2 separate regions of the Homo sapiens genome follow, and region 2 is linked to region 1. Evidence: fine-mapped expression QTL. A gene starts in region 1. The other region holds a variant in brackets. All regions are shown on one strand. Distances are between the middles of the regions.

Region 1 (5,525 bases):
ATGGGCTACGGGTAACAGGATCCCTGCTCTCATGCAGAGCAAATGTAGTCAGAGAACAGGCACATCTACAGGTGATGTTTCTCCGGGGGCATAAGTTTGCAAAGAAGCAAGATACCCCCTCTCCCCGCAGATAATTCTTTCATCCTGAGCAATAGGGTAGAAATACCAAGCAAAACTAGCTGCTGAGCTACACTGGCTGAAGCAGGGAAATCGGATTCAGCCTGCCCAGGGGCACTTTCTAAACCCCTGTGCTGCTAAGACCACCATCTTCGTGAGCAGAGGTAGGTACAACCCAATATTGCCATCATTTCCAGTACTGGCAAAAGGAAGAATTAAACTTCCCCCAAAAGTCAGCCTCTGTCAAGGTGCCAGACGCTTATCTGAGAAAACAAAGGGTCATCTGTTTCTGCATGCTCCCAGCCGTCCTCCCAGAAGTCGGTACATGCCTGATACTAACAGCATCTGAACATCCAAGATCTGCCCCCTAGGGAGGCTCGCATCAATACCAAAGCTGGTTTTTGCAGGTAAAAGAGCCACAAGTTGGACACACTGTTAACAACTTGATAAGAAACCTGGGAGTCATCCAAAAATGCTATCAATGTCCATGTGTGACAACAGATCCCCTATTAAGTAACACAAGAGGGAACTTCAGAGAACAGAACATAAACTGCCTGTCCAGCTTTTACATGACACCCTTAGAAAAAGCAAGACGCGCATAAGCAATAATTACCAAGTTTTCAAATTTACTGCATAGACCATTGTATATCTGTAAACATCTCATAAATATTTGGGGGGGATATTGGAAGGGACACCTGAAAACTATAAATATTTTTACATATTGTTGGACCCTTTTTTATCTGAGCACCCCCAGCAGCAGTCAAACCAGATAGTGAGATAGTGTAAGAGCCTATCTCACTTTATCTCAGCATTCTTCCTACATTCACCCAACAAATGTTAAATTCTACTGTGCACTGAAAACTAGTTTATCATTTCTATCACATAATAATTTAATGAGGTTTTAGCCCATCTGCCAATTAGAAACTGTCCCCATCTGATCACACAGCAATCATTAGTTTTAACGTACATTCCAAAGGTAGAAAATAGAGTAGGAGAAGGGAAGAGTGTTTTGTTTTTCCAAATGCATCAAAATCCAACTGAAGTTCTCGTTCCTTCTTCCCAGTGAATAACACCAGTGTTCGGGCAGAAGGCGGGAGAGGGGGGCTTGCTTGCATCTGGGGGAGCTCATGGCCTTTTCTGATGGTGTGAATAAATACTCTGGATGAATTTAATCCCTGCTAAAGAAAAACATGCAAGAAAGGGCATTTCTTTCCATGTGTATCCCCTGGGCTGCCCAGAACAGAAGTCATCTTTGACACAGCACACCTGCCATGGATGACTCCAGATTGAGGCAGAAATTCAAAGAGGGCCTCCTGTTTGGCTCGGGAGGGCTTTTCCAGAAACGAAAACAAAAACAAACAAATAAATAAATGCATGGCAAATCCAAAAAGTTCATGTAACTTTAATACTTAGAATGTGGCAGAAAACATCCATGGGCAGAGAGGGGGAGAGAATTTGGCTCACTGATGGAGGGACCAGTGCAGGTGTGGGTGCCTAGGTGACAGCAGCTCACGGGAGGCTGCGGGGTGGCTCTGAGCTGGTGTTCTGGGCTCAGGTCTGAAAGAGAGATGTGACAGCTCCCTGCAGCTTGGGCCCTGGAAGTCAATGAGCGGTGGGTCCCTGGGCGCACGGAGGAGGCTCAGGCATCTCTGAAAGAACCTGCGCCACCACCCCTTCTTCTTTTCGGGATCGCTGTTCTCAGTGCCAGCCGCTCAAAGCCACCCTGGGCATTTCACGGCTACCCCTGGAGGGCCTCCGCCCCCAAAGCGGACATCGACCGGGCACAGAGCTCCAGGGTGTGTGTATCCCACCCCGGCCTGCAGCCCCTTGACTTCTCAAGCCTCCACAGCAACAGTTTCTCAGTAGGAGAAGCGCCGCAAACGCCCGCTGGGAAAACGCTCGCCAGGACCGCGGGCGCTAAAGCCAGGGACACGGAAGGAGTCTGGCCCTGGGCACAGCGGGGAGGAATCGGAGACGGGGCCAGGGGTAAAGACTTCCAACGTGGGCCTCAAAGATCACACAGAAGGAGAAACTTCCCGAGGGCACGGGCCAGGGTGCGCGTCCCTGTTTAGAGGTGCAGCCCTGGATCCCCCGGGCAGGTGGTGCGGGGCTGGCGACAGGCGCGGGCCCGGTGAGACCCGGGAGCAGGTCTCAGCCTCGGCGCGCGGTGGTCGCTCCGCGCCTAGGGTCCCAGGAAGGAGAGAGGAAGGGTCTCTCTTGGTCCCGTAGGACACGTTGCGGGCACTTGGCGGGGAAGGGACCTCGAACCCAGGCCCCAGTGGGAAGCGGCTGCGCAAACTAAGTTAGGGCACAGAGAGGCTTGGTCGGTTGTTCCCCCGCGTCAGTGCGCCCTGCCCGCGGTGCGCCACTACTTACACGAAGACTCCGAAGAGCAGGGCTCGCACCCCGATCTCAATGGCCAGCTCCCGCATGGTGCGGCCGGAGCAGCTCCCGCGGCGTCAGCTGGTGCTCTCCGCGGCTCCCGCAGCTCGGCCGGCGCCGGCTCGCCAGACCCTGGGAGGCGAGGGAGGCGCGCTCCAGGCCGCGGGCGGGGGCGGAGGCGGGCGCCGGGCGGGGGCAGGCGCCGGGGAGGGCTCAGCCTAAACCTCGCGCCTCGGGCTCCGGGGCTCCGGGAAGCCGCGCCGGCCGCTGGCGATACTGCGGACCCCGCCTCCTAGTGCGGAGCCGGGGCCGCCTCAGGGACTCCCGGATCCCTCTCCCCAGGAGCCGCCTCCGCCTCCTGGGCCCGCGCCGGGCACCCGCGGACCGGGGAGGGGAAGCCCGGGGAAGCCCCACCGCCGCCGCCGCCTCCCTGCGCGCTCCCCGCCTCCCCCGCCAGTGGGCGGCCCCTGGGCTCCGCGCCAGGGCAGCGCGCTCGCTGGGGCTCTGCCCGCGGCCCCTCTGCAGCTCCTGGTCCTGCCTCCGACTCCCGCTGTCCGGGCTCTCGCTCCCTGGCACACGCACGCACGTGGGCATGTAGTGGACGATCGCTCTGGGGATTCTCCAGGGCTCAGGGCAGCCCTGGCCAACCTTGCTCCCGTGTTCGGCCCTCCCTACACCGTTCGAACCTGAAATTCTTTCTTTTTTCTAGGAAGTTCCCCAGAGATCACTCGCGGGCTTCGCTTTGCTCTCAGGAGATGCCAGCCAGGGTCCAGGGCTCCGGCACAGAGAGAGGGCAAAGGCAAGCCTGGCTCCCCGCCATGCCACCAGCGCCAGGTGGCCCCTGGGGACCGAATCCTCTCTCCCCCACCACCTGTCCTCCGCCCCCAGCAGCTTGGGGCTGCTGAACTGTGGAATATGAAAAAGCTCCTGCCACCGTCCCTGGCCTGGCCGGTGTGTGGGAAGTCAGGGTCGCTCGTCGCTGACACAGCATTCAACCAGCCGTCAGCCAGGCAGCAGGTAGAACCCAGAGCCTCATCCTCAGGTTAAGAGCCAAAAGCCCAACCCTCGCAGCCTAGGGGTCACGACCTCCAGCTGGAGCCCAGCAGGAGCTTGGATTTGCTTTTCCCAAACCGGTCAGAATTTTATTTACTTTTCTTAGAATTTTGACTTCTTGGCTTCACTAATTTAAACCAAGCAGACATTTAAAATGCAAAACACACAGTGATTATAACCATTAGGTTGTTCCTGGGGAGCCCAGGCCTCTCTTGGATTTTAGGAGAGACCCAGCCAAAATTGTGTGAGCAGAGGACACGGATTAGAAGGTGGTTCCTGGGACTAAGGAGCTATGGCTCAGTCCTGGATAAAAGGGGGAGCAGGTAGAAAGAACTTAGGAGGAAGCCCTTGGCATCAGCAAAGGGCAAACAGACCCTACCTCCAAAGGAAACACGTGCAGATCAGAGATACCTGAGCCCAGATATCTCAGGGTCTAGAGAGAGAGAGGCAGAGGGAGTAGGAACAACCCAGGCTCTGTGTGGGAGGGACTCCAGCCCTGAGGCACCACAGGCAGGAGCTGTATCTGCATTCCTCATCACTCTATGCCCAGTGCCCGGCACACTGTGGATACCTGGTTGGTACTTAGTAAATGAATAAATATTTATTCATACATATATATATATATATATGGCTATATATATGATATATTCATTCATATATATTATATATGGCTATATATATGATATATATATACACGTATATATCATCAGGCACATGGGGTGTCAGGTGCAGGTAAGGTAGGAAGGTCTTGGAGGGAGGAGGTATGCTTCTGTCTCCTCTGTATCTTGGGCCCAGCAACTACCTTGGACATAACAACTCCCACGGATTGGCAAAGTGCTGTAGGAGAGCCCATAGGCAGCCTAGTGAACACTGATGATCTCGGTCTGAGATTGTCAGGTGGCCATATTCCAGCAGGGCATTCTGACAATAGCCCCTGACATTGGGGCACCACTTACCTATAAGCATCTGCTGAGTTTGAGTACAGCCTGTGCAAAGTTGTGTGCTGGGTGAGACGATTCATAATCTGTCTCTGCCTTCAAGAAGATGGGGAGCTGATAGACCACAAGGAGACATCAGGGAAGTATGCAAAGCAGTATTAATAAGTCACAAACACATGCTTCAGAAATCTGGATCGCTCAGAGGTCAGAAGTTGGAACCACATCATCAGTCTGAGATAGCCTGAGGACACAGCCTCACGGAAAGGAGCTGGCTTTTGGACCAGGCGCGATGGCTCATGTCTGTAATCCCAGCACTTTGGGAGCCCGAGGCAGGAGGATCATGAGGTCAAGAGATCGACACCATCCTGGCCAACAGGGTGAAACCCCATCTCTACTCAAGATACAAAAATTAGCTGGGCATGGTGGCGCATGCCTGTAGTCCTGGCTACTCAGGAGGATGAGGCAGGAGAATCGCTTGAACCCGGGAGGTGGAGGTTGCAGTGAGCCCGAGATCACGCCACTGCACTCCAGCCTGGGCGACAAAGTGAGACTCCATCTGAAAAAAAAAGAAAAAAAAGAAAAGGAAAAAAAAATGAGCTGGCTTTTGTAAGGCAAAGAAAGAAAAAAATAAGGGGGAGAAATTCTTGGTAGGGGCAAGAAAGTAGGTGCAAGGAGCAGAAGGTGGAAGTGGTTTTGGAGGGCAAAAGGAGTTACCCTGTCTGACAGAGCAGAGAAACCACCCGAGGTTAGGTTGGTGGAGGAGACGTAGTCGTGACAATCCTGCCCACCAGGGTCTGTTACCAGGGTCACAGAGAGAATATTCAGTTTATCACTTCGTATTTGTATAGAGATACCCAGAGAGGGAGTCAGAAGGGGCATGTAACTTCACTTCATGGTCATTAAGAGACTCTGAAACACATAGATCGAAAGAAGTGCCCAATAAAACCCCCCATTTTGCTGGAATTTATTCTCCATTATCTCCCCCAAGTGCTCATCCAGTGCAGGGTGCAAATCCTGCCACTGAAAAGGCATTCA
Region 2 (5,000 bases), 110 kb before region 1:
TCCTCACAGTGTGTAAAATGCTTGTTTTCTTTGAGAAGAGAGTAGCAAGTTCTATGGCTAGAGTCAGAAAACATGTCTTGGACAGCCTTCCTGGTTTTTTGTTGTTGTTTTTTCTCCTCCCCGTTGAACTTGAACCTGAGCCTTGATGATTTAGAGTCCTAGGATTTCAGAGTTAGGTCTGATGAATAACATCAGAGCCGTGCCAATAGATATTAAGTATTCTGCTTAAAGTAAAAATATGTGAGAAGAAACTGCATGGCCCAGCCCTGCTCTAGATACTGTGGTGGGAGGTTATTAAGTGGTTTACATGATGTTCCAAAGTGGCCCTATCTGGCCACCAACGTAGCAAGCACAACGACTTCTTAAATTCTATCCTCATCCCCTTTGCTCTGTTCCTTCTATTCATTTACATTCTTCCTTGAGGTATTCCAGTGGGAGAGGAGGCTGGAGAGTTGGATCCCATTGGTATTGATCCCATCCTGAGCTCCTTCAGGAGGAATAATGGACTTTATTCAAATCAGGTGGCTTTGCAAGTTTATCCACCTAATTACACTAAATGCAGGGAAACACAAAAAAAACTGCCCTGGGGCTTTGTATGGTTTTGGATGAAAGTCTCCAAGATCTGAATCAGGGGAGAGGCAGCCTTGGGTGTTGCCAAACTGGCATCTCTTAGGGAAACAAACAAACAAACAAATCAATGAACATAGGGCAGCTGTTGAGCAGGAATTTTTATGTGTCCCCATAAAAAATGACTTGGAGACTTTAAGACATATAAGTCATCAGCCCAAGCAACCAATACTGCCTACAGCACCTCCGGGCACATCCAGGGCATGGAGAAGGGGAAGGGCTGTGGAAACCCTCCACTGTTGGGCAAATGGTTCGAGGTGAGATCCTCAGCATCCGCCTGATTTCTCTGTCTCAGGAACTTGTATTTGGCCAGCATTGGCACCCCAGGCTCTAACTCATTCTTTGAAGGGTAGGTAAAATGTATTCTCTCCCACACGGCGGGAGCCAGGACCACCACTGTGACCCCTCCAAAATGTTGAAGCCTCTGCCTCTTTGAAAAAGAGGATGAATTCCAAGTCATCTTTATAGGCAATGTGCAAGGGCCTAGATCCTGTGGGCACCCAGCAGCAGCCAGTCTTCCTGCCCACACGCTACTGGGCCTTTGAATATTTTTTTTAAACTTCACTGTGTGCCCTTACTTTCCTAAGTTACACAATGAGGCTCCAATTTCATGCTAAACCTTATGCTTGTCACTTTCTTACTGATATTTATACTGTTATTGAACTAACATAATATCCTTTGACAAAGGACTTTTGAGGCCATTCCCTCTGGCCCAAGGGCATGTCTGAGCTATGGGAAGCCTTGGTTCTCTGCACTCCTGTTTTTCCAGTAACTACCTGAGGAAGAATGAGACTCTACCAACCCATACTGAATTAGTATGATTTCATAATTTTTCTGACACTCTTCCTGGCAGCTAAGGGGTTTGGGATCAAGGTGCAATCTCTCCCATGAGCCATCTCCCACCCAACTCTGAAATCCTAGGACTCTAAATCATCAAGGCTCAGATTCAAGTTCAACTGGGAGGAAAAAACAACAACAACAAAAAACCAGGAAGGCTGTCCAAGACATGTTTTCTGACTCTAGCCATAGGACTTGCTACTCTCTTCTCAAAGAAAACAAGCATTTTACACACTGTGAGGAGGGGGAGGGTGCTAGCATGGAACAAGTTAAATGACCTGCATTCCAAGTGAGTGTCTGTCCCCCACCCTACCTCCATCCTCCCTTTAAGCACAGTCCTAGCTTTCTGCTTGATTAAGAACTAAAACTGAGACAAGAGCATTCAAAGACTTAGGGCATTAAACATTTTTAAACATGGGGATTATAAGACAGGACAAATGTGCTCATATCCTGCTAACATTACCAACAACAGAAATATAAGTAGAAAA[CT/T]CCTGAGCCAGTGGGATGAGAGGATATTCAGAGTCTACTTGTCCTGGACAAACTTGTTCATTTGCTCTCCAGAGTTGGAGACACACAGACCACACACACACACACACACACACACACACACACACACACGCCCCTTTACTACTGATGGGAAGGAAGTAAGCATAGTGACCTGTGGGAAGAGCATATGTCCCTCGCTTTCAAAGCCTTGTAGTAGGTTTTCTTTATTTGTAGCAGCTGATTGTTAATATTTATGTGTTGATCTGTCTGTGAGTAGGAAAGATGGTCTAAACTAGGAAGAAGACGAAAGATAATGACTTTTCACCCTGTTTCTGACACTTGGTGATGCTCACTGGCTGTTACGAATGAGGGTAGATAGGCAAAGCATTACAATAAAAGGAGCTGACATAGGCGGTAACACCAGGTCCATCCCATGAACAGGGCTATCTGCCTGCCTGGTGACACTGAAAAGGAATCACTAATTCTTCTCTCCAGCAACCCAGATGAGTTCAAAACTCTCCCTTTGTAAAGAAAGGTCTAGTCATTGCACTAGCTTAGGTGCAATGTTATAGTTTAACTTCATCCCCAGTTGACTCTTAAACCAAGCGGAAAATCTTTGGACCCTACTGATTACAAGAAACACAAAACTGGCACCAAAAAAGAAAACTCTTAAAAAACAAATGAGATAAGAATCAGGAAGACAGGTCCTGCTTTTTATGTTGTATTTTTTTACTTTTGCTAATTATATTTTTCCACACAAGCTGATAATTTCTGGCACTGAACACACAATTGTGCTCTGATGAGTCAATCTATACAAACTTTCCATTTTGGGATGTTCAGAGAGTTGGTATGATCTTCTCTGAGGGAGAAAGGCAACGTTGGGTAGTTTAATAAACCTTAGTGTGGAAGGGTGTTTTGCAGAGGATATAAGTGCATCTCCAGAAGACCATTTGAAAAAAAGGATGTGGGAAACAAGCCTGCCTGGTCAATGCCTGCCCACCCTCATCAGCAGGAGGAAACCATGCCAAGCAGAGCAGGCAGAGGAGCATTCCATCAGAAGGACAGCCAGGTGATCAGAGGTTGAGTACCTCCCATGGGCCAGGCACTGTGCTGGAAGCTTTTCATTAGGTTGCCTCATTTCATCCCCAGAACAACACAATGATGTAGTCATTAGGCCATTCTATGAATGAGAAATGGAGGCTCAGAAAGTACAAATCATTTATATAGGTGTGATGCAGCTCTTTAGAAACTATGTGTTCTCTTTAAATAGAGCAAAAATCACAGATGTTCTTAGCATTATTGCAGTTAGAGCAATGCTAACTGCCTGTTTGTTTTCACACCCCCAATTAGGGACATGCCCATCAGGGTCACTGTTGAAGCTCTAGGACCGAACACACTGCCTGACAATAGGAGGCACCCGATATGTAATGCCCAAATGAAAATATAAATGGTAGAGACCATGTATTCATTTTACAAATATACCTGGACCCTATTAAGGATTCTGGCAAGAGGCCAAGGTCCTTGGGGACAGAAAGACATGAAAGGTCATGTCCTTTATCCCCTGTTTCTAGGCAGGGTGATACCTGAGCTACCTGAGCCATGTGAGATTTTCATCTCATGATGGAAAGGGTTGCACAGTCTTGTTTGAAAATGAGCAATGGGGAAAAGGAAAAGGAACTCCAAAACTCCTAATTAGTCTGAAAGCAAATGTCAGAGGCAGGAAATGCAAACAGAAAAAAGCAGACTATAAACTCCTTTTCTTACCTCATGTTGCATTTTCAAAGAAGATTTTGTTCTGAGAAAAAGAATCAACTCAGGCTCAACGCACAAGAAGTGCAGAGGAAGAACAGTGGTGGGAAGAAAAATGATAGCGGGAGGAAGGTGGCTGTCCTTTTGTCAACTGGCTGGAGGCACTGATCCTGGGAATGGGCAGATACAAGGAGGGAAAGTAGCAGCAGAGGAGGATTAAGAATTTTTTTTTTTTTTTGAGATGGAGTCTCACTCTTTACCCCAGGCTGCAGTGCAGTGGTGTGATCTCAGCTCACTACAACCTCCGCCTCCCGGATTCAAGTGATTCTCCTGCCTCAGCCTCCTGAGTAGCTGGGATTGCAGGTGCCCATCACCACGCCCAGCTAGTTTTTGTATTTTTGGCAGAGTTGGGGTTTCACCATGTTGGCTAGGCTGGTCTTGAACTCCTGACCTCAAGTGATCCACCCACCTTGGCCTCCCAAAGTGCTAGGATTACAGTCGTGAGCCACCGCACCTGGTTGGGGATTAAGGATTTTTGAATGACAGAAGGTGCTTTGGCTCCACTGTCCACCCCACACTCCTTGATGAAAAATGCTTATGAAAACTCATAAATGTTACTCCTTGCACTGGAGAAAACTACTGACAGTCACAAGGATGGGAAGTGGTTTTGCATATCTGAGCATCTTAATCTACAGAAGGTCTAAATCCCCAGGATAACTTTTCCTTTGATTATATGCCACAATGATCTGAAACATAAATATAAAAATAAGCCATCAAAAGAAAGAAATTGCCTTTTTCCATAATGACATTAGAGGAGCTGATATGAGCATGAGCAGGTTTGAAATAAAGATGATATTTTAATGAGAAATGATTTTTTAGTTTACCTTCAAAGGACTTAACAGAGCATAAATTTGATGAAGATATTTGAATAGTAATGCACATTTAAGAAACCACCAACAAGGAGTAGTCATTGATTTGCCCAGTGTGCTCATCTGATCATCCTCTAATTGGGGTGCATGGACTTCAGGAGAAGCCCTTAGGTTGTAATGATTGTTACTGCCTTGCTCTCTTCTAAACGAGTAGCCTCAACTCCTCCTGCCTTTTACGAGATGTCATACAACCTGTCTCAGGGTTTGCTAGAGAAGAAGAACCCTTCTAACCTGCTGCTGGCAGCCTTGCATGAGGGTCTCAGCCAGCACAGGAAGGGAATATAAATGGCCTTTGCATTAAGAAGATCTGTTACCCCTGAAATGTTTGGCTTAAATGCTGACCAATAGGGACAGTCTGTGATGGGTGCTGGC

Which allele goes with the higher level. Alleles are on the strand shown, and positions count from the first base shown. SD is a standard deviation of normalised expression in the study named.
For the expression in tibial nerve of the gene that starts at base 2,628 in region 1, CT is the low allele of the variant in region 2 and T is the other (moderate effect, 0.64 SD a copy in GTEx).

The links.
Region 2: its variant is fine-mapped to the expression of PLPP4 in tibial nerve (GTEx, PIP 0.97).

Annotation. Positions count from the first base shown.
Region 1 is chr10:120,454,330-120,459,854 of GRCh38, reverse strand. PLPP4 (phospholipid phosphatase 4) reads right to left here and starts at 2,628. Exons shown (of 7, transcript NM_001030059.3): 1 at 2,494-2,628. The coding sequence starts at 2,549.
Region 2 is chr10:120,568,176-120,573,175 of GRCh38, reverse strand. The region is part of intron 5 of PLPP4 (phospholipid phosphatase 4); the gene reads right to left. Among named protein-coding and RNA genes, the nearest start is that of LINC01561, 27 kb to the left of the region's middle. The variant CT/T (reference allele first, on the strand shown) is at 1,953.